Linked DNA regions of Homo sapiens: region 1 is linked to region 2. The links come from fine-mapping of genetic effects on gene expression. A gene starts in region 2. The other region holds a variant in brackets. All regions are shown on one strand. Distances are from middle to middle. Region 1 holds the start of IGSF22 (immunoglobulin superfamily member 22). Region 2 holds the start of TMEM86A (transmembrane protein 86A).

The links. PIP is the estimated chance that this variant, and not a neighbour inherited with it, causes the effect.
Region 1: its variant is fine-mapped to the expression of TMEM86A in whole blood (INTERVAL, PIP above 0.99).

Annotation. Positions count from the first base shown.
Region 1 is chr11:18,719,941-18,729,681 of GRCh38, forward strand. It overlaps IGSF22 (immunoglobulin superfamily member 22), which reads right to left and starts at 6,248. Exons shown (of 23, transcript NM_173588.4): 1 at 6,134-6,248; 2 at 4,188-4,329; 3 at 1,970-2,101; 4 at 1,595-1,731; 5 at 246-345; 6 at 124-163. The coding sequence starts at 4,296. It overlaps PTPN5 (protein tyrosine phosphatase non-receptor type 5), which reads right to left. Exons shown (of 15, transcript NM_006906.2): 13 at 9,718-9,741; 14 at 9,513-9,626; 15 at 7,988-9,087. The coding sequence ends at 8,994. All of the region lies in intron 2 of IGSF22-AS1 (IGSF22 antisense RNA 1), which reads left to right. RefSeq lists an enhancer at 1,691-1,880. The variant T/C (reference allele first, on the strand shown) is at 3,018.
Region 2 is chr11:18,690,252-18,706,224 of GRCh38, forward strand. TMEM86A (transmembrane protein 86A) reads left to right here and starts at 8,528. Exons shown (of 3, transcript NM_153347.3): 1 at 8,528-8,656; 2 at 10,682-10,946; 3 at 11,322-14,534. The coding sequence starts at 8,636. The coding sequence ends at 11,758. IGSF22 (immunoglobulin superfamily member 22) reads right to left here. Exons shown (of 23, transcript NM_173588.4): 22 at 15,566-15,895; 23 at 14,061-14,287. The coding sequence ends at 14,217. RefSeq lists an enhancer at 8,235-8,736 and a silencer at 8,330-8,639.

The DNA of each region.
Region 1 (9,741 bases), 27 kb after region 2:
CCTTGAGAAACCCCTCCCTACTCCATGGATTCTTGGAACTCAGGGCCTTGTTGAGAGGCCTTTGAGAGGCTTTGGCCTGGATGAGGAGACAATATCTTGGGCAGAAGGACCTGCCAGCCTCACCTCTTCTTCAGCATCTTTTTGAAGTCCATTTTCTCTTGACCTGAGGATAGACAGAGGGACAGGTTCAGACAGGGGGAGTCTGGTCCCTAAGAAGAAAGGCCAAGAGGAAGGGGCCAACTCACCTTCTGTTACCAGCAGAGATACGGTATAGATGGCATCTGCATGGTCATTGCTTGCAATGCACTTATAGTTGTCAGAGTCATCCGAAGTCAGTGGCTCCAGCTGGATCAAAGTCCGGCCATTAGTGGGGGAAGGAAAAGGAACCACAGGGAGACTTTCTGTCAGATAAGGTAGGAGGCCTTTTTTTTTTTTAGGGGACAATAGGAACTGACTGTTGGGTATATGTGTGGAGGATTGAGCAGCCTGTATGATTTGGAGGTACCAGCTAGCAGTCAGTGTGAGTATGCATGTTTGTAGCCTGATTCCATAGCAATAAAACTGTCTGCTTCTCCATCGGACTCTCCCCCTTGGCTGTGAGCTCCCAGAAGGCAGGGCTTCCCCTGCCTTGTAACTCTATCTGCAGTTTCTGGCATCATCTGGCTGAGACTTCATTTAATACAATTTACTCCTCTGTACCAGACACTGGGCTGAGCCCCAGAAGGAACAGTGGTGAGTAAGGCTGACTTGATGCCCGTCTGCATGGTGCTTGCAGAAGCCTGCTAGGCTCTCAGAAGCCAAGGCTCTCAGAAAGTGTCTGCTGAATGAATGAGCTTGTGTAAGAGGTGGCCATCAGGGGGACTGGGGCAGCTCGTGTGTGCTGTGGGGGGCTTAGGGTCCAGTGATGATGGGTCTTTGGGAGCAGACTACTTCTGTCTGTGGGGAAAAAAGGAGGCTCTTTGCCTTTCACAACGGGAAATCGGGTCAGGACCCGAGTGATTATAGGATCATAAGTAATTATAGGCCTAGATCTCCCCGTGATCCATCCCTCCCTTTCCTCGAAGGGCCTGGAGCCAGGGGTTACAGCTGGGTAGGCCCAGCTCTCAGAAAGTGATCCAGAAGCTGGTTAGACCTAAGGATGGTCGGTCCTTGGGGAGGGTTCAGCTGAAGAGCCCGGAGCCCCTGACCCTCACCCCTACTCTACGGCGAGTCCCTCCGGCACCTCGCCACCCACAATGGTCCCGCCCTCCATGGCTACGCCCACCGTCTTGGTCCCGCGTTCCTTTTGGCTCACTCGCCTTGTGGACACGCCCCTTCGCTTCCATTGCGTCCCGCCCCGCCACGTTCTGGCTCTGCCCCTGCTCTGCTCTGCCCCGGGGGTACTTTGGGTCCTCTGCTCATTCCGGCAATATCCCGGTTCCTGACTCGGCCTCTCTTATCCTGCCGCGCCTCTCGGGCAATGACAGCTGCTTTTCCCACTGCCCGGCTCTCGGGCCGCCGTTAAGGCTCTCATCGGTGAGAAGACTGGCGGCCCGCCCTGGGGGTCCCTGCCTCTGGCCTTCTCGGTAACTGGACTTGGGCTTGGCCCCCGCACCTTCAGCACGTGTTCCTTGTTAATGCTGTCGTAGAATATCTTGGCGGACTCCTTGATGGGGATGCCGCTCTCCCTCTTCCAGGAGATGTGGGGTTTGGCGTTCCCCTGCACCCGGGCTCGGAACACGGCTTTGTCCCCTGCGATGAGCACAGGACGCGTTTTCGCCTCTTAGCCACCAGGCTAGAGCCTCTGCCACCCTCTGCCGGCTCTCTGCCTCCTCCCAGACACCTGGGCCTGGCCCCGGGCAGGGGAGGAACCCTCGGCCAGGCTCTGCCAGGGTTTAGCATTGGAGGTCGTTGGGGTAGGACGGAGGGTGGGGGCACTCGATTAGAAAGCGAAGCACTGGAGCCCGGTGAGCCACAGGCAGCAACACACCCTCGGGCGCGGTGACCGGTTGAGGCTTCTCCACGAACTCAGGGACGCTGTCGCCCGCAGGGATGTTTGAGCTCCGGGTCACTAAGCTGAAGAACTCCACTATGCTCGAGGACTTCCTCCTCACGACCTCCTCTGTGGGGGCAGGCGAGAGGTCAGAATGGGCTCCAGGTAGAAGCCCAGCTCGCGATGGGAGGACAGAGCTTTCTTGAGAGGACGGTGGAGCATGGGAACAAAGAGCATTTAGGGAAGTGGGAGCAGGACCAGCTACATGGGGAGAAAGCAGGGTGAGTCGATGGGCCATTGTGTTATGGCAAGTTTCAACCACTAGGGGAGGCGAACTCCTTTCCCACACCTCAGTGGTCCATTACCTTTATGGGGCCACAGCCCTGAGTCCTAATTTTTTTTTTTAAAGGAGGCTTCTCTTTTGGAATTTTCTTGGTCTCTTAGGCTTCTCTCCTGGAAGTCCTGGTCCCCCAGTAGCATTAAGAGGGGCTAGGCCTGCTTCTGCCTGGGAGGTCTGCAGCTTGGCTGAGCTCTGCTCTAGATTTTCTCCCTGCCATTCTGTGGGTTCAGCATTCATTGCCTTGGGAGTAGTGATTCTTGAGTGAGGGACAGGACACGACACAGTCCCACTCCAGTGGAGCTATATATGGGAATATCCTTATCTGAAAGCACATCTTCAATGTGGAAATATAATTTTATATTTGGAAAACAAAAAAAACTGTTTTTGCAGTATAAAACTACAGACAATCTTCTTGGCTGGTGAGTTATCAATTCACAACAATTGCTCTGAATCATGGAACACTTTCCTTGAGTCAGGAACTGTGCTAGGCACATATCAGAGATGATTTTATTCCATCTTCACAGCATCCCACTGAAGTAGGTGCCTTTATTATCCCACTAATCTGACAGAGGGGGAAAAGTGTGTTAAGAAGCTCTCATGGCCTGCTTTTAAATACTAACAAGAGGTCTCAAACAGGCAGAGTGCAGTGGACACCTGGCCTGCAGATGTCTTTTATGTGACCTCCACAATGTTTAAACAAAAAAG[T/C]AGCCCTACATCTGAAAGAGAAAGATTTCACATAAAAATTCAGATTTCTGGATTCTCAACACTGAACCTGTATTCCCATATGGCAACAGTCAGTGGGAGGTGAATAGTGGCTGCCCCTTTAGATGGGATATACAGTCTCTAGTTTACCCCAGTCTTTTCCCCACATTTATGTTCCCTGCCTGGGCCCTGTTGGTCAGTGGTCTACAGCTTTGGCTGCACATATATAATCCATGGAGAACTTTATAAGAAATACCTGATTGAATGGTCTGGGGTGAGACTCAGGTACTGCCATATTTTTGCCCTCCTCACACCCCCTGCACTAAGGTGACTCTGATGTGCGGCCACAGCAGAGAATCACTGCTGTAAATCACTTGAGTTTGGAACTTCTGGTCTAGACCATAGGCCTTGAGTCCCAGCTGTTCCACTTGCTCTGCCTCACTGGCCAGGAGGTGTTGGTTGGTATAGAGTGTTTATCTGGCCTTGACCTCTGTGCACGGAGGACTTTGAGGGACTCTATCCCTTTGAGGCTTTGAGGGAGGGGCAATGACTGTGAGAAGGGGTATCCAATGTCTTGGCCCCCGGCCATCTTTTAATCTCTTTCCACTAGAGACGTGACTAAAACACTCTGTTCAGCTCTGAGACCATTTCTCAGCTTTCCCTTGGATCTGCCCTCTTCCAAGTCTGGCCCCAGAGGGCTAAAAGCCTGGAAGGTAAGGTCACCTTCTTGTTTATGTGTTCACCTTCTTTCTCCACTGGTAGCCCCAAGTCTCCTATTTCTTAAGTGGAGCAGGGTCAGCATTACTGATATGTAGATAAGGTGGCTACCTTCCTAATTTCCCCTATGCCTGAAATTCTACCTTTGGAGATAGAATCTGTTCACCTATGGCTCTGATCTCCTTCAGCAATTAAGAGTTTATCAATCATTCACACACATCCACATGATTGATCTTTTCTAAGCTGTTTTCCTGGAGATCTGATCTGTGTTGAACATCCAGCTGGCTGAAGCTTTAACAAAGCCAAGATTAGAAGCACACGTTGGGTGGGGGTTGCTGTTGGTATTGTGGGCTCCAGAGGGGCCCATTAGTGGCAAAACTGGGGCCACCCAAGGGATGGGTGTGGAGGAAGAATAGCTGCCCTTCCCGATCCCTTCCCTGCCCCCATTCCACTTGCCTCCCACGATCTTGGTTGTCTGGGAGAAGGTCTGCACGTGGGTGGTGGAGCTGGAGAACTCCATGGACACGTGCTCCTGCAGCATCTGCCGGCTGTGAATGGTTGTCATGGTGACAGCAGGCGTGGGCACTCACCTGTGAGACTGGGGAAGAGGATGAGGCCATGAAGGACAAGACAGGGAGTAGGAGGGAGATTCAGAGATGTTATGTGTGTGTTCAGACATAAGAGGAGATGGAAGCACACAGGAGAGGGCCAGGAGAGCAGTCGAGCTCTCTTTTCTTCATTTCCTAGCTTCCTTTTCCTGGTTAGTTACCAGACCCAATAGGCCTGTCCTCTCACTGAGTAACTCCAAACTATTCCAGGGTCTCAGAGGGAGAGGTTATAGGGCTTAGACTTACCCAGCCAACCAAGTAAGGCCTGGAGGGAGTTGAGGATACCTATTGATAGCTACATGGCACTAAGGAGGCAGTGCTGGATGTTTCATCAGGAGGGAATGCAGTCAGACCTAAGAAAGAACTTCCTGACTAAGCCATACTGGAGTGGGCTTTAGAAGGAAGCTGTGTCTCTTATTCCTGGGCCCTGGGGACCCCGGCACTGGTGGAATGCTAAAACAGATGACAAAACATCACTACAATTCTGCTTGTGTTTGCGACATGGTAAAGGCAAAGGTTTAGTTTTTCTTACATTTTTCTTTGAACTGGTAATTCAATCACATAGTTAAAGAATAAAACAATATAAAAATCCATATGGACAGGCTCCCTCCCACTCCTGCGTCTATCTTACAACCTTCCCCATTGCAACAGGTAGCCAGTCTCTAGGCTCCTTCTAGACCTCCATCATGCAAATAGGAAAACTCATGTGTTCTTATCATCTTCCTTTTTTTTTTTTAATTAAAAAAGCACATAAGGTAGCCCATTATACACACTATTCTGACCCTTTCTTTTTTCATTTAATGTGTCTTGGAGATTTTTTCCATACCAGATGATAGCGTTTCCTCATTCCTGTTCAGAGCACCATGTTTTCTCAATGTTTTATTTAACCAGCATTGCGGTTTTTTTTGGGTGATCTCGGCTCATTGCAACCTCCTCCTCTCGAATTCAAGCCATTCTCCTGCCTCAGCCTCCCCAGCAGCTGGGTTTACAGGCACGTGCCACCATGCCCAGCTAATTTTTGTGTTTTCAGTAGAGACAGGGTTTCATCTTGTTGGCCAGGCTGGTCTCAAACTCCTAGCCTCGATTGATCCGCCTGCCTTGGCCTCCCAAAGTGCTGGGATTATAGGTGTGAGCCACTGCATGTGGCCAGCATTGCAGTTTTTTTGTTTTTGTTTTTTTGAGACAGAGTCTTGCTCTGTTGCCCAGGCTGGAGTGCAGTGGCACGATCTTGGCCCACGACAACCTCTGCCTCCCAGGTTCAAGCAATTCTCCTGCCTCAGGCTCCCGAGTAGCTGGGACTACAGGCACCCGCCATCACACCCGGCTAATTTTTTGTATTTTTAGTACAGATGGCGTTTCACTATGTTGGCCAGGCTAGTCTCGAATACCTGACCTCGTGATCCGCCCACCTCAGCCTCCCAAAGTGCTAGGATTACAGGCGTGAGCCACCGCGCCTGGCCCAGCATTGCAGTTTTTAAAGTCCTATTTCGTATATGAGGAAACTGATGTCTGAAAGAAATGACCTGTCCAAGGTCACTCAGACTAGACTCCTAGCTTTTGACTCCAGTCCAGTGGCGTCCCAGAGGGCTCCAAAGCCTTCTTTAACCCAGGTAGTTAGGGGTTAAACTCTATTCCCTCTCTCCACCCCCTAATATATCTCTGCCTGGGCTGCTTCTACCTTTGGGTTCTGAGACTACTCCCCTGTTCCTATTCCTGCCCTCTACCCTATAGTCCCCTCTGGGCTCAGAAGGTGGTCAGCTTTGTCCCCTTCCTGAGGGAGGAGGGGAGCCTTACCTTCAGCACTGACCAGTCCCTCCCAACACTCGAATGCTGTGTCCACGGCTTTGGAGGCTCAGCTAGTGCCTGGACTGTAGGGTGGCCCGTCTCCTTCTTCCTTTGCCCCAACAGTGAGGCTACCAGTGTCATCTGTTCCTTAAATGTCTGGCCCCCTGGGGGCGATTCCTTAGTCAGGCTCTGCAGCTGTCTCAGCTAGATGGCACACTGCTTGGTTGTGGGGGGAGGGGGAGGGCGGTGGAGAAGGGAGGCGGGAAGCAAAGCTGGATCCAGGCTGGGGGAAACACTGAAGGCCAGGCGGGAAGGAGGCTGAGGGTGGCAGTCCAGGGGTACTTTTTTTGTTCCCTTGTGGTACAGGTTTTGGCTCTCACTGCTGCTGGGTAGGACCTCTCTGAGCTGAGGGGCTCAGGGTAGTGTGTGTGCACAGGCACACACTCAGGTACAGGTGCATGCATAGTCCAGCAGGGCTCAGGGAGCAAAGCAACAGGTCTGTATTTTCCAGGGACTGGGACACGGTGAACTGGGGAGGGCCTCTGGGATCTGCTGCGTTGCTACACAAATCCAGGGGTTCCCATTCATGTTGCACTCCTATGTGTGGTTCATACACAGCCTGAGTATCTTTACAAGGCCACCCTGGGGAAGAACAGGGAAATGTTAGGTCTCCTTCCTCTTCCCACTTCAACAGCCCAATCTCCCTAATCTGGGTAGAAGAGTAGGAGGGCCCATCCTCCGGGGGTTGTGGGGAGGTCTCTGCTTGAGGGTGACTGGAGAGTATGGCCACCTCTTCTCAAGGACTTCCATCTGGGCTGCTTCAGCCACCTGTTGTTTTCTTTTCTTTTCTTTTTTTTGAGATGGAGTCTCTGTCACCCAGACTGGATGCAGTGGCACGATCTTGGCTCACTGCAACCTCTGCCTCCCAGGTTCAAGCGATTCTCCTGCCTCAGCCTCCTGAGTATCTGGGATTACAGGCGTGCACCGCTACGCCCGGCTAATTTTTGTATTTTTAGTAGAGATGGGGTTTCACCATGTTGGTCAGGCTGGTCTCGAACTCCTGACCTCATGATCTGCCACCCCTCGGCCTCCCAATGTGCTGGGATTACAGGCGTGAGCCACCGTGTCCAGCCCACCCTGTTGTTTTCTCATCATCTGTAGCACACCCCGCATGCCTGGACCCTGGATCCCACCCAAGGTTCTGGCACCTTGTAAGGACTTGTTGGTCAGCACCCTTGCCCTGGACCCCTCCTTCTGCCCTGGGGTGACCCCCACCTGCCAGCAGTGGCATCATGGCTACTTTTGCTCCATCCCAGGGGGGCAGGGGACAAGAATAGAGCAGGAGTGTCCAGGATGGCTCAGGATCTCAGCCCACATGCAGATTCCCTGGGCCCCTTGGGAGGAGCTACTCTGAGCCCAGGCCTTACAAGGGAAATTACTGGGCTGCAGCTGCTGTTGGGATCTGTGGAGCTAACATGGGATAAGAGTTTGGCCAACAGGGAGGGGCCTGGGTGTGACCTGAATGTCTCCTTACCCTAGCCTTGGCTTCTCTGGCACATCTGTTGGAAATGGTGACCTGCCAGCCACTGTGCCTTCCCTGGAAGCCTTCCACACCTGTCCTTGAGGCTCCCCATGGCCCAGAGCATGTGTCAGGGCCAGGGCTGAGGCTGTGTGAGAATCCTGCAGAATGTTCCCAGTTTGGCTTTACAAATTTGGACTCGCTCCATACTCCCAGTCTCCACAAGGGGCTCCAGTGAGCAGAAGGGCCAAGCTCACTGTGCTCATGCTGGGGAGGGGCACAAAGACCCAAGTACAGGAAGGAAGGCAGTGGAGGGGAGAGGCAAATCACACAGACCCAGGAGGTTAGTTTTGCTCAAAATGCTCCGTTTATTGCTCTATTCAATGACCACGAGCGAATTATAAAAAGACACCAAATGTCTCTGTCTGCCGTGGGATAAATATTTAAAGTCAGCAATAAAAACACGTGGCTCCAAGATAATACATGTTGCCAAAGAGTCATGCATGCCCTCCTGATGGGCTCTCAACACACGCATGGACATGGGAACACACGCAGAGCAACACGCAGTGAGACTTCTGGGAAGGCTTTCCCACAGTGACACAGAAAAATGTCTCACGTAGATCTGGGCTGAGTCCCCACCCAAACCTTGAGCTCCCCTCCCCTCCCCAACAGGGCCTAGATCCTCTGGGTTCTCCATGCCCCATCTGCCCCCTACCTTGCCAGTGCCTCACAGGCTGGGCACCCTCCTGAGAGCATCTGACACCCAGAGGCCACCCTGGCTGTGATGCCCACTCCAACCTAGAGAACTCTCCCTCAGCTGAAAGCTCTCTGGTGACCTTCTGGAGCTCCCCATGCCTAACTCCCCGTCATCTGCCTTTTGGGAGAAGTGCGGGTGAGGCCGAGGCAGGCAAGTCCGGTTGCTTAGGGGCTGGAGCTCATTACCCCTTCCTGGCTGAGGAGACACAGTGTCCGGTACAGAGGGCAGAGATGGATGGACAGACAGAACACATTGCAGCAGGACACAAAGTGTAGCACGGAAACATTCTGGATCAGGTATTGATGGAACCATCGTTAAAAACTGGAGCCCGGGGTCTGCGTGGTGTGGGTCAGGCCCCGGGGCCCCAGGCCTGGCCTGGCATGTCCCTTCCCGACCCTGCCCCCCACTCCCCAATATGTACAGTAGGAAGAGCAATGCTGGAGGGTAGGGGTCAGGCCAGGCTGACAGAGGACAGAGGGAGCTGACTGAAGGGGAGGAAGCGGGGAGCAGGCCCAGGACCCGAGGCAGGGCCCTGGGTGAGGGCCGAGACTCAGGCTGGGCAGTGCCCAGAGAACCTTGTAGGAGAAGCGCAGTCATTCTGGGGACTGGTGGGACAGCTGCTTTTCGTAGAGGCTCATGACGTGGTGCACAAACTGGTACTGCTCGCATGTCTGGATCATGCCGCCCCTGCCCGGCAGAGATGCACAGTGGGGGCAGGGTCGTGGAGGGATGGGCTGTGGGAGGTGCCCCAAAAGCCATGGAGTAGCAATCACTTGCCAGGCCTTGCCCCTGTGCGTCTTGGAGAGACCAACCCTTGCCAACCATTACCCTCTGCCCCTTCCTATCAGGGACACAGATGACATGTCCTACCACTTTCGGCCTCTGTCCTTTTATCCACCAGCTCTGCTTTTCTTCCCTCTTCATCTGGCCCCCCACTGTCTGGATCCTGCCCCTCTACCCAGCTGTCCTCGCTACTCCTTGTCTGCCCATCAGTCCGTGCCAGTGTTTTCCATCTGCCCCTCACCCCCCGCCCATGCACATGTGGGTCTCTCCCTCTACCCGCTCGGGGCTCTAGCTCCCTTGTGTGTCCCCACTCCCGCCCGTGGGCTGACCTGTCCTGACGGAGCTGGCACGTGGTCTTCAGGATGTCCACCACACCCTCCTGCCGCAGCTGCTGGCAGCAGATGCTGGTGGCAATGAAGCAGCCGGTCCTCCCAATCCCTGCACTGAGGGCCGAGGGGACCGGTGGGGTGAGGGGCAGGGCAGCCCAGCGGGTGGGGGGCTGCCCCGCTCCAGTGGCTGGCTGGGAGGACCCACCTGCAGTGGACGATGATGGGGGCA
Region 2 (15,973 bases):
GAGATGGGGTTTCACCATGTTGGCCAGGATGGTCTCTATCTCTTGACCTTGTGATCCACCTGCCTCATCCTCCCAAAGTTCTGGGATTACAGGCATGAGCCACTACACCTGGCCAGTACACCTGTTATTAAATTCTCATCTCATCAGTTGTTTTTGAGTGTTTTCTGCAATTTAGACTGACCCTGCTTATTCCTGTGAACCAACCAGTGATCTCTGACTGCAGCTCAGAAGAAACAAGAGGGGTCTGGGTGCAGTGGCTCACGCCTGTAATCCCAGCACTTTGGGAGGCCGAGGCGGGCGGACCACGAGTTTAGGAGTTCGAGACTAGCCTGGCCAACATAGTGAAACCCCGTCTCTACGAAAAACACAAAAATTAGCCAGGTGTGGTGGCCCGCACCTGTAGTCCCAGCTACTCAGGAGGCTGAGGCAGGAGAATCACTTGAACCTGGGAAGCGGAGGTTGCAGTGAGCCGAGATTGTGCCATTGTACTCCAGCCTGGGTGACAGAGTGAGAGTCCATCTCAAAAAAAAAAAAAAAAAAAAAAGAAATAAGAGGGATGGGTAATGTCAATCTTTGGATCTAATTCTGGCATGAATCTAATTCTGATTAGAATTAGCTAGCAACTCCATATCAGCTTGGTTCCAACAGTTGCCCAGTTCATGGAAAGCCTTCTTATTTAGTTTACTTGGGATAGTTTTACTTATTTTGCTTTACTATTGTGGAATATATTGCTGTTGTACTCCTTGTGTAGGAATGCAGGATAAGCTTAGTCAACATTTTCTTAAATTGAATACTTATTAATCTTCTAGATTTCACCTTTTGTCGGAACTCAGAGTTATGAATGGCCCTCAGCATACCAGTGCTTTCTGACTGAGCTCCTCTCTACCCTGGATACAAAAGATCCTAATAGAAAGGCAGGAATATCGTCACCCTTATTCAGCCTGAAGAAGCTGCAAAAGATGGATTTTTGTCCCTCTACAACCCTTAGAATTAAGGGTCCACTTATAAAGGGGAGGGGAGAAATATGTCAGGTATTAGAACCAGAGTGACTCAGGCTGGGCACAGTGGCTCACGCTTGTAATCACAGCACTTTGGGAGGCCGAGGCAGGTGGATCACTTGAGGTCAGGAGTTTGAAACTAGCCTGGTCAACATGGTGAAACCCCATCTCTACTAAAAATACAAAAATTAGCTGGGCGTTGTGGTAGATGCTTGTAATCCCAGCTACTCAGGAGGCTGAGGCAGGAGAATCACTTGAGCCCAGGAGGCAGAGGTTGTAGTGAGCCAAGATTGTGCCACTGCACTCCAGCCTGGGCGACAAGAGCGAGACTCTGTCTCAAAAAAATACAAAAACAAAAACAAAAAAAACAACACCAGAGTGACTCCATCTTGATTATGGACTGGGTAAAATAAGGCTGAGACCTACTGGGCTGCATTCCCAGGAGGTCAGACATTCTTAGTCACAAGATGGGATAGGATGTTGACAGGACTGGTATCACAAGATACAGGTCACAAAGACGCTGCTGATAAAACACGATGCAGTAAAGAAGAAAGCCAAAACCCACTGAAACCAAGAGGGCAACAGAAGTGATCTCTGGTTGTCCTCAATGCTCATTATATGCTAATTATAATACATTAGCATGCTAAAAGACATTCCCACCAGGGCCATGACAGTTTACAAATAAATGCCATAGCAATGTCAGGAAGTTACTCTATATGGTCTAAAAGGGGGAGGAACCCTTAGTTCTGGGAAGTGCCTGCCACTTTCCCAGAAAACCCATGAATAATTCCTCCCTTGTTTAACATGTAATCAATAAATAACTATGAGTATACTCAGTTGAGCAGCCCCTGTCACTGCTCTGCCTATGGGGTAGCCATTCTTTTATTCCTTTACTTTCTTTTTCTTTTTCTTTTTTTTTTTTTGAGACGGAGTCTCGCTGTCACCCAAGCTGGAGTGCAGTGGCGGGATCTCTGCTCATTGCAACCTCTGCCCCCCTGGTTCAAGCGATTCTCCTGCCTCAGCCTCCTGAGTAGCTGGGACTACAGGCGTGTGCCATCACGGCCGGCTAATTTTTGTACTTTTAGAAGAGACGGGGTTTCACCATGTTAGCCAGAATGGTCTTGATCTCCTGACCTCGTGATCCGCCCGCCTTGGCCTCCCAAAGTGCTAGGATTACAGGGGTGAGCCATCGCGCCCGGGTTTTTTATTTTTATTTTTATTTTTATTTATTTATTTATTTATTTATTTTTTTGAGATGAAGTCTCATTTTGTTGCCCTGGCTGGAGTGCAGTAGTCTGAGCTTAGCTCACTGCAATCTCTGCCTCCAAGGTTCAAGTGATTCTCCTGCCTCAGCCTCCCAAGTAGCTGGGACTGTAGGCATGCACCACCAAGCCCGGCTAATTTTTCGTATTTTTAGTAGAGACGTGGTTTCACCATGTTGGCCAGGCTAGTATCCAACTCCCGACCTCAAGGGATCTGCCTGCCTTGGCCTCCCAAAGTGCTGGGATTACAGGCATGTAATCCCATGCTTGGTCTATTCCTTTACTTTCTTAATAAACTTGCTTTCACTTTATTCTATGGACTCGCCCAGAATTCTTTCTTCCATGAGGTCCATGAACCCTTTTTGGGGGTCTGGATCAGGATCCCTTTCCAGTAACAAATACGCCAAGGAAAGGAAAGAAGAGTAAGTATCTTGTGGGTAAGGGGCTATGCTGGATATGGTAGATGCATCAGCAAACTTCCTTTCACGCCACCCCTTCCAGGTTTGCTATTTTATAGAAAAGGAAATTGAAACTCAGAGGGTTAAACAATTTGCCAAAGCCACACGGTAGATGAAGAGCCTTAAACCCATGTTTGCCTGGCCCCAAGCCCAGAGGCTAACCGGATAGCCCGGAATGTCCTTAGGGACACTGCTCCACATATTATCTCAGGACAGCATCAATATTTAACCCTCACCAAGGGTCTGGAAGAGAAGTTCTGCTAAAATCTTTGTCCTTTTCTTAAGTGCCTCCAGGAGCGGACTCTGTGTCACTGACCACGTTGGCCACTCCAGGGTTCACCTCCCTGACCCAAGCGGGCTCCAGCATGACAGAGGCCTTCTAGAATGGATTCTAGGCTGCTGATAACTGTAAGCAGAAAGGGCAGAAGGGACCTGGAGGAATGCCTGGGCTGGGGTTGGGTATGTGGAGCCTCCCACAGACCGTGGGCCATGGGGCACACAGTCAGTAATGGTGATGGGTCATGGTCATTTATCTTCAAAGCTTCTGGCCCACCACAATGGGGAAGCAGAACCAGCACCTGCCACCTGTTCCAGAGGCAGGGAACGAAACCACAAAACCCACAGATCATCTGTGAACATACACTTCTCTGGGTGTGTCTGTCTCTTTCCCTGTGAGTATACTTGGAACTAGGTATATCTGGGTGTGCCAGATACATTCTCAGCATATCTATTTATCTGTGTGTTTGTCTTCTTCCTTCTTTTCCTTTTTTCCACCATTCTCTTAAATGTTTGTCCCCAAAGTGCTTGTTCTAGTCCTCTTCTCTACTCCCTCAAGGCTCCTCTCTGGTTCATCACATCCATAGACTTTCAGTATGGTTGAGACTTCCAAATCTTCCCTGTGAGCCTGAGCCCTAGTTTTGTATCCAGTTCCACCCAAACATTCTCCACTAGGCTGACACACACATTCAGCTCACTCCTTACAACTCAACAACTGACGCCCTCACACTGTTATCAGAACATCTGACCTTGTCACACCCTCCTTAACATCTCTGATTTCTTCGACATATCTGCAGGTGGGGTGGGGGTGGAATCGGGTATGTGTGGTGACCCTGAGAGTTGGTTAAAAGTGCTCTGGAGGCTGGGTGCAGTGGCTCACACCTGTAATCCCAGCACTTTGGGAGGCCGAAGCGGGCGGATCATGAGATCAGGAGATCGAGACCATCCTGGCTAACATGGTGAAACCCCATCTCTACTAAAAATACAAAAAGTTAGCTGGATGTGGTGGTGGGCGCCTGTAGTCTCAGCTACTCGGGAGGCTGAGGCAGCAGAATGGCGTGAACTGGAGAGGCGGGGCTTGCAGTGAGCTGAGATTGCGTCACTGCACTCTAGCTTGGGCGACAGAGCGAGACTCTGTCTCAAAAAAAAAAAAAAAAAAAAGTGCTCTGGAGGCCTGAAACAGAAAAGAAATTAGCTGAGATCCAGCATCAGGTTGGGAATAAGATAATCAGTTTAGGGCTGGATTATGATTTCAAGCAGGACAAACTAAGTGAGGAAAAATATCCTGTGGCAAAACAACAGAGGTCAGAGATGAAGGAGGCCACTGGGTGAGAAGAAGCCCCATGGGGGAAGCGAGGCAAGCTCAGAATGATGATGGGTCATCATTTCTGTGCATTGCCCATGTCGCTGGTGGATGACAGCGGGCACAATTAGAGATGCTAAGGAACAGAGGACAATTGGTTTAGTGTCATCTACTATGTCAAGTCTAAACTTCTTAGTAGAACCTTCATTTTTATTTTTATTTATCTATTTATTTTGAGACAGAGTCTTGCTCTTGTTGCCCAGGCTGGAGTGCAGTGGCACAATCTCGGTTCACTGCGACCTCTGCCTCTTGGGTTCAAGCGATTCTCCAAGTAGCTGGGATTGAAGGTGCCCACCACCACACCCAGCTAATTTTTTTTATTTTTAGTAGAGACGGGGTTTCATCATGTTGGCCAGGCTGGTCTTGAACTCCTGACCTCAGGTGATCTGCCCACCTTGGCCTCTGAAAGTGCTGGGATTACAGGCATGAGCCACCGCGCCTGGCTGAGTAGAATCTTCAAGATCTGAGTTGGCTCATGCTTCTTCAGTTTCACCTTCTCACTCCCCAGCTCGAATCAGTACTACAGATATTTCCCTGAATTCAGTGTGTCTCTTGTGCTCTTATGTACACATGCAATTCCCTCTGCCTAGAATGGCATATACATTGGTGTCTGCTCAATAAAGACTAACTCGTTCTTCTAGATTTAACTCTAGCTCCTGCAATTGCTCCAGGTGTAATTTATAATTCTGATGTCTTTTTTTAATGCCACCTGTGACACCTTCATACTTCATTAGGTCAGCTACCACATTGAATAATTGTTTACTTGCCTGTCTGAAATGAACTGTGAGCTCCATAAGGATAGAGAATATATTTTACTCAATATTTTACACCCCAGAACCTAATACAGTGGTTAGCACATATTAGGTGCACTGTAAACATTTGTTGGATGAATGAGTGAGTGAATGGGCTCACAAGCACAGGGAAAATTACAAAGCTGTGTGAAAAGGGCCATGCCAATAGGTTGGAAAGGAAGAAATGCCAGTTCCTACCAAAAGGGAGAAATGCCCATTTTCAGGAAGCCTTATCCCACTTTCTGCCTCCTGCAATATGCAATTCAAAATAAAAACACTAGTAAATAGTAAACACTAGTAAATAGTAAATGAAAATTTACTTTTGAAACAACAAATCTCAACCATATGAATGAAGTCAGAATAAGCTCTTTCTCTTTGGGAAGAGGGTGGTGCCCTTGCTTTGTGGGTGCCTATATCAGCCAGGGTACTGGCACACTCAATAATTTAACTGAAGAGAATTTAATGACTATTTGCAGAGACGAAACTAGCCATGGGTGAGGAGGCACCTAAAGACTAGCAATAGCACTGGGCACAGTAGCTCATGCCTGTAATCCCAGCACTTTGGGAGGCCGAGGCGGGTGGATCACCTGAGGTCAGGAGTTCGAGAGCAGCCTGACCAACATGGTAAAACCCCATCTCTACTAAAAATACAAAATTAGCCGGGCGTGGTGGCACATACCTGTAATCCCAGCTACCAGGGAAGCTGAGGCAGGAGAATCGCTTGAACCCAGGAGGCAGAGGTTGCAGTGAGCATAGATCACACCACTGCATGGCAGCCTGGGGGACAGAGCAAGACCCTGTCTCAAAAAAAAAAAAAAAAAAAAAAGACTAGCAACAGCAGGAAACTGTTGCCACCCCTGGCCTGAAGGTATGGGGAGGGAGCCTGGGGCTGTAGCCATGGAGAAGCAGGCCACAGCCAGAATCTCAGCCTGGTCCATCAGGCCTCGTCCATGTTCTCATCTCCTGCCTCTGAATTTCATTGGCTGAACTCAGCCAGAAGCCAGGGCCCTGGTGATCCCTGAAGATACAGTCCATAGAGCTCAGGCTCCCAGGACAGGGTAGAGAAGAGCCAAGAATGAATCTAGGTGGTGGGAAGGCAAATGGAGAAAAACCGGCATTGAGGGGGGATGCCTCTGCTTTGTAGGCGACTTGTGTATATGATTAGTTTGCCTACTGGGTAATCAAGCACTGAGTGGAACCCTGTAGATGGGAGTTCTAAGTCTCATGTTTTGTATTGTTAGGTATTTGTATGTGCAAGCTTCTTAGAACTGGTGCCACTAATTAGTAGGTCTTGGGTGGGGCAACGGCATCTATGTTTTTAAAAGCTTTCCAAGTAATTTTGATAGGTACCACTTGTTGAGAACCACGGATATAGTCCACCTTCTCATTTTTATAGAGAGGCAAACTAAGGTCTAGAGAAATGAAAAATGCCCTGACTTGGCAAATTTCTGTTTGAGAACTATCCCTCAGGTGATGTTAGAGGGTTTGGCTGGAAAACTGGAATATTTGCACCTTCTACTAGCCCATTTCCTCCATTTTATTCATGAGAAATCTGAAGCTCCAAAGATGGAATGATGTGCTCAATTATACACCACAGTAGTGAGTCATGGAGAAGGAAGCACTAGGACTAAGAATGGCATTTCTAACTCTCAAGCCAGTGTTCTCTCTAGGCAGCACACTTGGTAGAAATGTGTGTGTGTGTGTGTGTGAGTGACAAAGCCCTGGGGCAGCAGTTATAGTCCTTCATTCTGGTAAGGTGCTCTCCCCAAAGCCCCTAACTGGAAAGAAAGAGGAGTAGGCAGAGGTCATTGACCCTTAGAACTCTATGCTGGAGGGGACTGGAGGGGATGGGGGGAAGATCTGGGTGACTCCTGTCCCAAGCCTTGACTCTCACTCTTGTTGTACTGGACTCTGAATCTCTGGTTGCCAATTCTGTCACCAGAAGAGGACTATCACCCCTCTGAATGGGTGTTGGGACTTTAGGGAAAACTGGGTAGGATCCAGAAGGAAAAGGAAGAGACCCATTGTGGGAGGGGCTTACAGGAGACTTCAGCCTGTCGGTCTCTGCCCAAACAGCACAAGGCTCAGGACCAGCACAAGGGCCTGTGTCACCATGCCAGGATGTTTGAAACTCCTTTTTGGCTGCTAATTAGGGCTGGTCACCCCTTTCCCATCAATTCCCAAAGCCTGACACACAGCTACTGCCCTTCTACAGTAGCTTACAGACTACTTGCCCATCCTTTGAGATACAGCTGAAATCTCCATCTCCAGGATTGCTAGACTTAAATTTCCTAAAACCAGCAGCCCTTCCTCTTCCCCAACCTACACATGTCAGAGTTGGGTGGAACCTTAGAACTCACCCGCTCATCTTCTAAGTGAGGAAATCAAGACCAGAGAGGGGAAGTGATTCACCCAATCTAACAGCATGGAAGTGGCAAAACTGGGACTAGATTTCAGTCCATCTGGCCACCTACCTCTCCATGTAATTCCAATGATTCTGAACATGCACCGCTCTGAATGAGCTTGTGTTCCTTTAGTCTACGTAAAATCAACATTAAATCCACTTGGGACGTATTTTTGGCAAAGTTAGCTCACGCTTCTTTGGGTCTGCCTGTCTGTCATTCTTGGGGTGCTCTTGTATGTGTGGCAGTGGTCTCTGAGTTGTAAGAGGTGTGTGCCTACGGCCAATTATCTGTGTTTGTTTCTATATTAGGGTCATGGGTCTACGAGCTGCTGTAGAGTCCCTGTATATGTCTCTTTTCTTACATGGAGCATATATGTCAATTTGTGGTTGTTGGTTTTGGATCTGTGTACTTGTTGAGTGCTTAAGGGTAATTATGATTCTGTATGTGTGATGTATATGCTACGATTATGGGTCCATGGCTGCTGCATACCTATATACGTGCCGCTTTTCAAGTCGAAGGTTGTGTGTTTGCTGATGATTTGGATGTGTGTTTGTACACAGTGAAGGTTGTGAGTCCAATTGCAATCGTATCGGCGTGGACTGCATGTTTAAAGGCTTAAGGGAATCTGTCTTTGCCTTTTGCTCCCGGGTTATGAGAAAATGTATGTGGCTGTGCGTCCAGGACAGCAATGTGTTTGTCTCTCAGCCAAGCTCAGTCCTCACCCAGGCACCGGGGTCACGGTCACGTTCACGTTCCGTGGACGCCTTGGCACGGCCTCCCAAGGGGGCGGGGCCTGGGGGGTATCCGCCTTCTGACCCCTGGGAGATGCCTCCTTTCTCCGAGCAGCAGCCGGGGGCCTGGCCGGCGCCGCCAGCCGGGCCCCGCCCCCCCGGCTCCCGCCCGCTCATTGGCCCTGGCAGCGGTGACGTCACGGGGCTAGCTGACAGAACCCCGGCGCCGGGCGCTCGGGAGGTATTGTCCGTCCCTCCGGGCTTTGTAGAATCGTCGCCGGCTTACCTGGCCGTGGGCGCGTCCTGGCCGCTGCAGCCCGGAGCAGGGTGCCAGCCGCCGCCGCCGCCGCCATGGTGTCCCCGGTCACTGTGGTGAGTGAGCGAGCGAGCGAGCCAGTGCCCGGCGCGGCTGGAGCCCACCGGCCTGGCCACCGGACTTCGGCAGGCCGAGCTGCCGAAGGGGCCGAGGCGGGGCGGGGGTCCCGTGGCGGCCGGAGTCCCGCGGCGGGAGGCGGGCGCTGTCACCGCCCCCCGCTCCTCAGACTCGCGGCGCCCCTCCTCGCGCGCCCCCAGCCCGCCCGCGGAGGGAGGAAAACACTGGCCACGTGACTCGGAAGCGTGACTTTGTTGATCTCCATGTATTTGGCGCGGGTCGGCGGGGTCGCGGCCCGGGAGAGGGAGGGGACCGCTGCCGGCCGCAGAGTTCCGCGTAGGCGGACCACAGGGAGGCGTGGGGGCGGGGGATGCTGGGAGGATAACAGGGACCTCCTGGGAATGCCGTCCCAAGTTTGTTTCCTAACCTTCCTCATTTTGTAAACAAGTTGGCGGACGCCCCTGAGTCTAAGAAGCGCTGATAACGCGCTGGGGGAAAAGGGGGCATTCTCTATGACATCCCCTGCTTTTCAGACTTTCTCAACTTGAACCTTTTGTTTCGTCTCCCCATCCTCCTTATTCTACTACTGGGTTCCCTATAACTGTCAGGGTCTCTCCAGCTACTGCCAGTATCTCCTTCTAGAAAATATGGGGCTGGGAGAGGCCATGGAGCGGAGGTTAATGCTCCCAGGGGCTGGCAGGTGGTTGCTGGGCATTGTGGGCCTGGGCATCCCCTCCAGCCGCCTCCTCTGACCATGCCCCTACCCTGACCAGCCTTAATTTCCATGGGAAGTGGAAGTCATCTCTTCTCACTGCTCTTACCTCTGGCAGAACAAGGAAAGGCTTGGACCCTGGAACCACCCATCCGCCTCTTCCCAATCCTCCTCATCACAGTCTGATCAGTCCTTAGGTACCTGGTCGTCTGGACTCTGAGTGTTTCCCAAGTCCTGTGCTGGGCAGCTCACCTAGCCAGAGACACAATCGCTTTGGGCAGAGTGTGGGTGTACAGGGAACTCCAGCTGCTCCATATCACCCTCAATGGATCTGTTAGCAGCCCAAGGAAAGGAGTTTCAAGGATCACAGATTCAGAACATCGCTGCAGCCCCCTCCCCCAGCTTGGACTCTGCCTGCAGTGGCCTTGGGTACAACCTTTCTTTAGCTGCCCTCTGCTAATCCGGCTGAGACCAAGTCAGCTGCTCTAACTTCCCCCTCTCAGTTCCCCATCTCCCAGCCTGTCTGCTGGCTCCAGATCAGAAGCTGGGAATAGAACCTCTCCCCCCTTTCCTGCCTCTTTCTGGTGTGGCTTGAGTTGCTCTTGTTCTCTGGGAAATGAGGCTGACTGACACACACCCTCCCTTCCCCCAATCCTTGAAATCTTTGGTGTTTGAAGGACAATTTTCTTGCTCCCAACTCATGGGTCCATTTATCTAGCCAGCATCCCTAGCATAGCCCTCCTTGCCCTTGATGCCACCTTCAGGCTGGGGCAGGTGGAGTGGAGGCTGAGGAACAGACTGGTTGAGGAGGAGAGAGGCTGTGGTGGCTGAGGTGATTGCCATTGCCTGCTTTCCCACATTCCTGGCACACACCTGGTGTTGCCAGGGCCCTAAGGCTGCACCCTGGCCCCATGCTGAGGATCACGAGTTGGCCAGTCAGGGTGTCTCTGTGGTTTCCCACTGACTTCACTCCATTCCAGAGTGAACAGCTGGGGGCTGTTGCTGGCAGAGAGGAGGGGCTAAAGGGGCCCTGAGGAGGGAGAAGGAGGGGGCAGGAAGGGAGAAGCACACTAGGCTGCAGAAGGGTGCCCCTCCTAATATACTGAGCCTCAGGGCAGTAATGGGTTTGGCCACAACCTGCTGGCTGGTAGAGGCAGGCCAGGCTGGGTTTCTCTGTGTCAGTCTTCTCAGGTTGGGGGTGGAAGTGAGGTGGGGGTATGGATGGGAGTGTCTCTGGGGTGGATGCCTAGGCTGAGGGTGCTGGCTTTCAACCCCCAAGTTCTGAGTGCTGCCCTTGTCCTGTGTCCTCCAGGTGAAGAGTGAAGGACCCAAACTGGTGCCGTTCTTCAAGGCCACCTGCGTGTATTTTGTGCTCTGGCTGCCCTCATCTAGCCCATCGTGGGTCAGCACCCTCATCAAGTGCCTGCCTATCTTCTGCCTCTGGCTCTTCCTTCTGGCCCATGGCCTGGGATTCCTGCTGGCCCACCCCAGCGCCACCCGCATCTTTGTGGGGCTTGTCTTCTCTGCTGTAGGTGACGCCTTCCTCATCTGGCAGGACCAAGGATACTTCGTGCATGGTCAGTGGCCATAGTAGTTGCCTGGGAGGAGTCCTGGGGCTGGGGGATAGAGGGTCCTGGGCTGTGGGCAAAGATTTGGAAGAGGGAGTTCTTGAACCAGAGTGTGGGGAGCCTGAGGGTTTCTGAGGCCAGGGACTGTGAGGGTCCTTGTTAGGGGATGACCTCGCAGGGGAACTAGTGATCAGTTCCAGAGTCCTTCAGGGGACTGGGGTGGTGGTCTTTAACTTTAGATCTTCCTACCCCTGTTATCCCAAAGCAAAGCTGCTGGGTTATCCCAAACACTCCACTCCATCGCCACATCCATCCCTACCCCCACCCTGTTACTCATTCTTCATCAAGCTTGCCCTCAGCTGCCTTTGCCCCTCTTACCCCCAGGTCTGCTGATGTTTGCTGTGACCCACATGTTCTACGCCTCGGCCTTTGGCATGCAGCCACTGGCTCTTCGGACAGGTCTGGTGATGGCAGCGCTGTCGGGCCTGTGCTATGCCCTCCTCTACCCATGCCTCTCAGGTGCCTTCACCTACCTGGTGGGGGTCTATGTGGCCCTTATCGGCTTCATGGGCTGGCGAGCTATGGCAGGGCTGCGGCTGGCCGGGGCAGACTGGCGCTGGACAGAGCTGGCAGCTGGCAGTGGTGCACTCTTCTTTATCATCTCAGACCTGACCATCGCCCTCAACAAATTCTGTTTTCCTGTGCCCTACTCTCGGGCGCTTATCATGTCCACCTACTATGTGGCCCAGATGCTCGTCGCCTTGTCAGCTGTCGAAAGCCGGGAGCCTGTGGAACACTACAGACTGACCAAGGCCAACTGAGGTGCCAGGGTCTGGTCACCCCTCTCTCCTCCTGGGGCTGGGGCCCAGATCCTGGGGACCTGCAGGAGCTGGATCAGGATGGCTGCAGTGCCAGCCTGGGGCAGCAGGTACTGCCTGAGGAATTTGCAAGTTCGTGTGGGGAGGCTGGAAAAGGATCTCCCTAGCAGAACTCGTGGTTCAGGACAATGCTGAGAGCTAAAAGAGCCAGCCTAATATCAGACTGGAGCCAGAAGTAGACATCTCCCCACCTCTACCCTATCAGGACTTTCAAAACCCCCCTGGAAGGTGATGGTGCTCAGCTTCTTGACACCCCCCCACCCACTTCCCCTACCAGGTGGAAGAGTCTGACTCCATGTGTTATGCCTAGGACCAATGGCAGTGCTGGGTTCACCCACTCCTCCCCTTTTTCATCTGCACAAAGTTGAGGGAAACGGGAGAATCTGTGCTGAGAAGACTCAGACCCAGGAGCCCCTTTCACAGGCCCCTAGTTGGGAAGACTGGATGAGAGTGGAGCCTCCGTTTCTTTTCCCTCTTCTATCCTTGTTACTTGAACAATCTCAGTCTCTAAGTGGTGGGTGGGGACATGAAGAGGTGTGGGTCCAGGTTAGGCAGGAGAGAGAACTTCTTTGGTCTCGGAGTTTGGGGTCTCAAGAATTCAAGTAGCCCCATCTCTCTCTCGGGCAAGCCCAAAGCTCAGGTCCCATACGCTACCCTTAGATCCTATCCCCAGGGCTAGGGTGAACCATGCCAAAGGAAGGGGCCAGCTTCTCTGTGTGTGTGTGTAGCCTGTCTCCTAGTCTGCCTATGTCTTTCTCTGCTATATGTTTCTGTCCTGCTGTCTGTCAAAAGTCTCACAGAGAGAGGGCCTCAGGGAGCTGCTGAGGGGTGCTGAGCCTGGCTCAGGGAGCTGGGACCCCTCCCCTCCAACACACATACTCACAGTGCTTTCCTCCTTGTCCCTCCTACACTAGGAGCAAGAGGAGGGGGCTCCAATGACACTCCGGGGTTTTAAGACCCAAGGCACATTCAATGCAAGGGGAGCAAGGATGGGACAACTCCATCTTCTGCTGCCCATGTGAAAAATAATAAAAATCAAGAGCCATTGGCTGCCCTGCTTGTGGGCCTGTGTGGCACATGCCTATCTTGGAGAGGGCATGGGGGCATGGTGCCAGAGGCTCTGGCTGTCCTCACAGCCTAGTCACAGTCCTGGGCAGTGCATCTTGGTGCCAGGCTGGCTACCTGGCTCTGGTGACACTGTGCCGGTTGGAGTGTGTCTCACTTCCCTGGTGTGGGTGAGGATGTGGTTTAGGAGGATGGGGGATGAGTGGTATTTGCCACTGTCCAAATTTGTCCTTGATGTACTCCCCTGTGCACAGGTGCCCAGCACCCTTGGTGACCTTTAGTTACCCAGTGTCATCTATTGCTGCCCACCTCCTCCCCTCCCCACTTGAGACCTGCTGCTTCCTTCAAAATGATCCAGATTCCCTTCAAGCATCTCCCTCATCCTGGACTCTGGGCTTAGTTGAACAGCTGGGAGCAATGGGATTAGATTGGCTGATTCATTCATTAGTTGTAAAGCCCTGGCAGAATAATACATCACTCTGCTCCAGGAGCATTTGTAACTTAACAGACAATGCCCTAACCCAGAAGTAGAAAGGGAAGCCTTGGGTGGTGGTGGATATGCCATCAGTAGAGGTGTTGCTCATTTGTGGGGATGTGATTTAGGAGACTCAAGTCTCAGGGGTGGTTGGATGAGTCAGTGATTTCCAAATTAGTTTTTACAGAGATTCCTGGTAAGGGGGTAGTGAAGGAATAATGAGAGAAGGCAGGCTCAAAGACCTCCTATCCTTATTTCAAGTCCAGTAGCTTCTTAGGTTGTGTTTTTTTTTGTTTTGTTTTGTTTTGGAAGGATTCCACTGAAAAACGTAAGTTTGAAACTTAGTGAGCTGGATGATCAATCCCTTCTAGCTCTGAACCCTGGACACTAAAGAGGGAAGATCTTGATCCTTTCAAACTTCAGAACTCTGAACACAGACCTACCTAGTGTGAAGAAATGGGAGGGAGCAGGATGGAGAGCAGGATGAAGTCAGCAGGACTTGCCCCCAAGCTCTGAGGGGAGGGGGAAAGTGCCATGTAGATGTGGAGGAGGGGAAGGGAAGACCAGGCCCAGTCACAAGAAGGCTGGTCACTGCCTTGTGGGTGGGTTTGGACTAGGCTTTCAGGGGTCCAGGTCTGGGATTCCCTATCATGCAATCACATCCATCCCCTTGGTCCCTGCTGTATATCACCCTCAGGAACGGGAAAGGATGAGTTACGTTTATTGCCCCATCCCTTCACTGAATGTTTACATTAACAAACACCAGAGAGCAAACTGGGCTTCCTACACTGGGCCATGCAGAGGACAGGCCAAGAAACTCCACATCATAACAGCCTCCTGATGCCTGGGCTTGGCTGGAGCTCACATGAGGTGCTTTGATTTCTTCTGCAGACTCTCGGTGATGGATGCTACAACTGACTTATCATCTTTGTCTGAAAGAGCAAAGGAAGTATTCGTTATATTAATGATGCTGGCGACCAGGGAAATTCCAAACTGCTGGACTTCCTATGCAGGAAACCAGGAGCTGGACCCTGGGACCCTTAATCTTGGGTTGGCAGAGTGTGAAGGGGCAAGAGCTGCCATTTATCTAGCACTTAATATTTGCCAGACATTGTGCCAGGCAGTTGTGTACTGTCTCATTTAAGCCTCATAGTCCTATAAAGAAGATGAGAAAACAGGCTCAATGAGGTAGCTTACTAAGGTCACATGGCTGGTCAGTGGCAGAGCCAGGGCCCTGGGCCCATTTGCTGTGCTTACAAGCAGATTTGAGTTATCAGGGATCTCTTTAGCTGTGGAATGAAAGCTGGATAGCACCCACAGTGCCTTCCCTGGCCTAGTTCTTTTACACAGCTCAGCAGCCTCTCTGGAGATATTGTCTCAGTGCCAGACACTTAGCTAAGCACTCGAGAGACAGAGCAACAGGACAAGGTCCTTTCCCCAAAGAAAGGTATCTATAACTGGATAAAAAAGGTCTGTAACCATGGAGACCACAGCAATGGAGTGTCATGGAAGGTTCAGGAGTAGCAGAAGGTGAGATGAGAGGTGGGGGAGGGGGAAACCTTCTTGGTTTGGGATTTTACCATGAGAGGAAAGCTGGGGGAAATTTAAGCAACAGAAAGCAAGGCAGGCCAGCTTTGCATTTAGAGTTCATGCTGCTAGCTGTGTGGCTATGAAGACAGTAGACTGGGAAGGAATAAAATGCTTCCCCCTATGTGTGCACACATGAGTAGAAACATGGCATGCATGTACAAAAGGGAGGGTTCCCTTCGCTCCTTCCCTTGTTTGTGCCCCCCACCGGTCCTTATCCTAGACCAGTTTTAATTTTTATTGCACATCAGAATCACCCGCAAAATTTTGTAAACATATAGGTTATTTCCAGAACCGTGCCAGAGAGATCGTGATTGGTGAGTCTGGTTGAGTCCTGATCACCAGTATCTTTTTTCTGAAGGCAGGTCTAGGCTCACCAAGAGTTGCAAACCACATCTTATCTAGGGATTGAGAACTCTCATGTCTGCAGGGGCCAGGCATATAACAAATGACATCGAAAGGATGGGAGAGTGGTAAGAACTGTGGCCAATTAAGAATGTTTGCACCACCTGTTGGCAGTCAGATTAAAAAACGGTGCCAGCCAAATAGTTGACCAATGGCCCACAAGACCAGCCTTTTGCGCCTCTCCCCCTCCTCGAGGCCGGACCCCGCGGCGCCCTCACCATAGACGGTGAGCGTGCAGCTGCTGCGGTCCTTGCCCAGCTCGTTCTCCACCAGCACGCTGTAATCGCCGCTGTCCTTGAGCGTGCAGGTGGGGATGACGAGGGTGCACACGCCGCTGGTGGAGTTGTACCAGAACTTGGAGTTGGCCGTGATGTTGACGTCGCCCTTGTAGAGGGTCACTGTGGGCCGCGGGTTCCCAAGGAAGGCGCAGGTCATGGTGCAGTCCTGGCCGCGGAGCACCGTGTGTGGCTTGAGGGGCGTCACGAAGCGCGGCGCGTGGCGCCAGTCCTTCTTCTCGTAGGGCTTGAGCTTGGCGCTCAGGTCCTGGACTGCGCGGGCGGGGCGGGGCAGGCCGTGAGGGCGCCCCAAGGCCCCCACCCACCACCCACGTCTTACAGTTCAGCTTA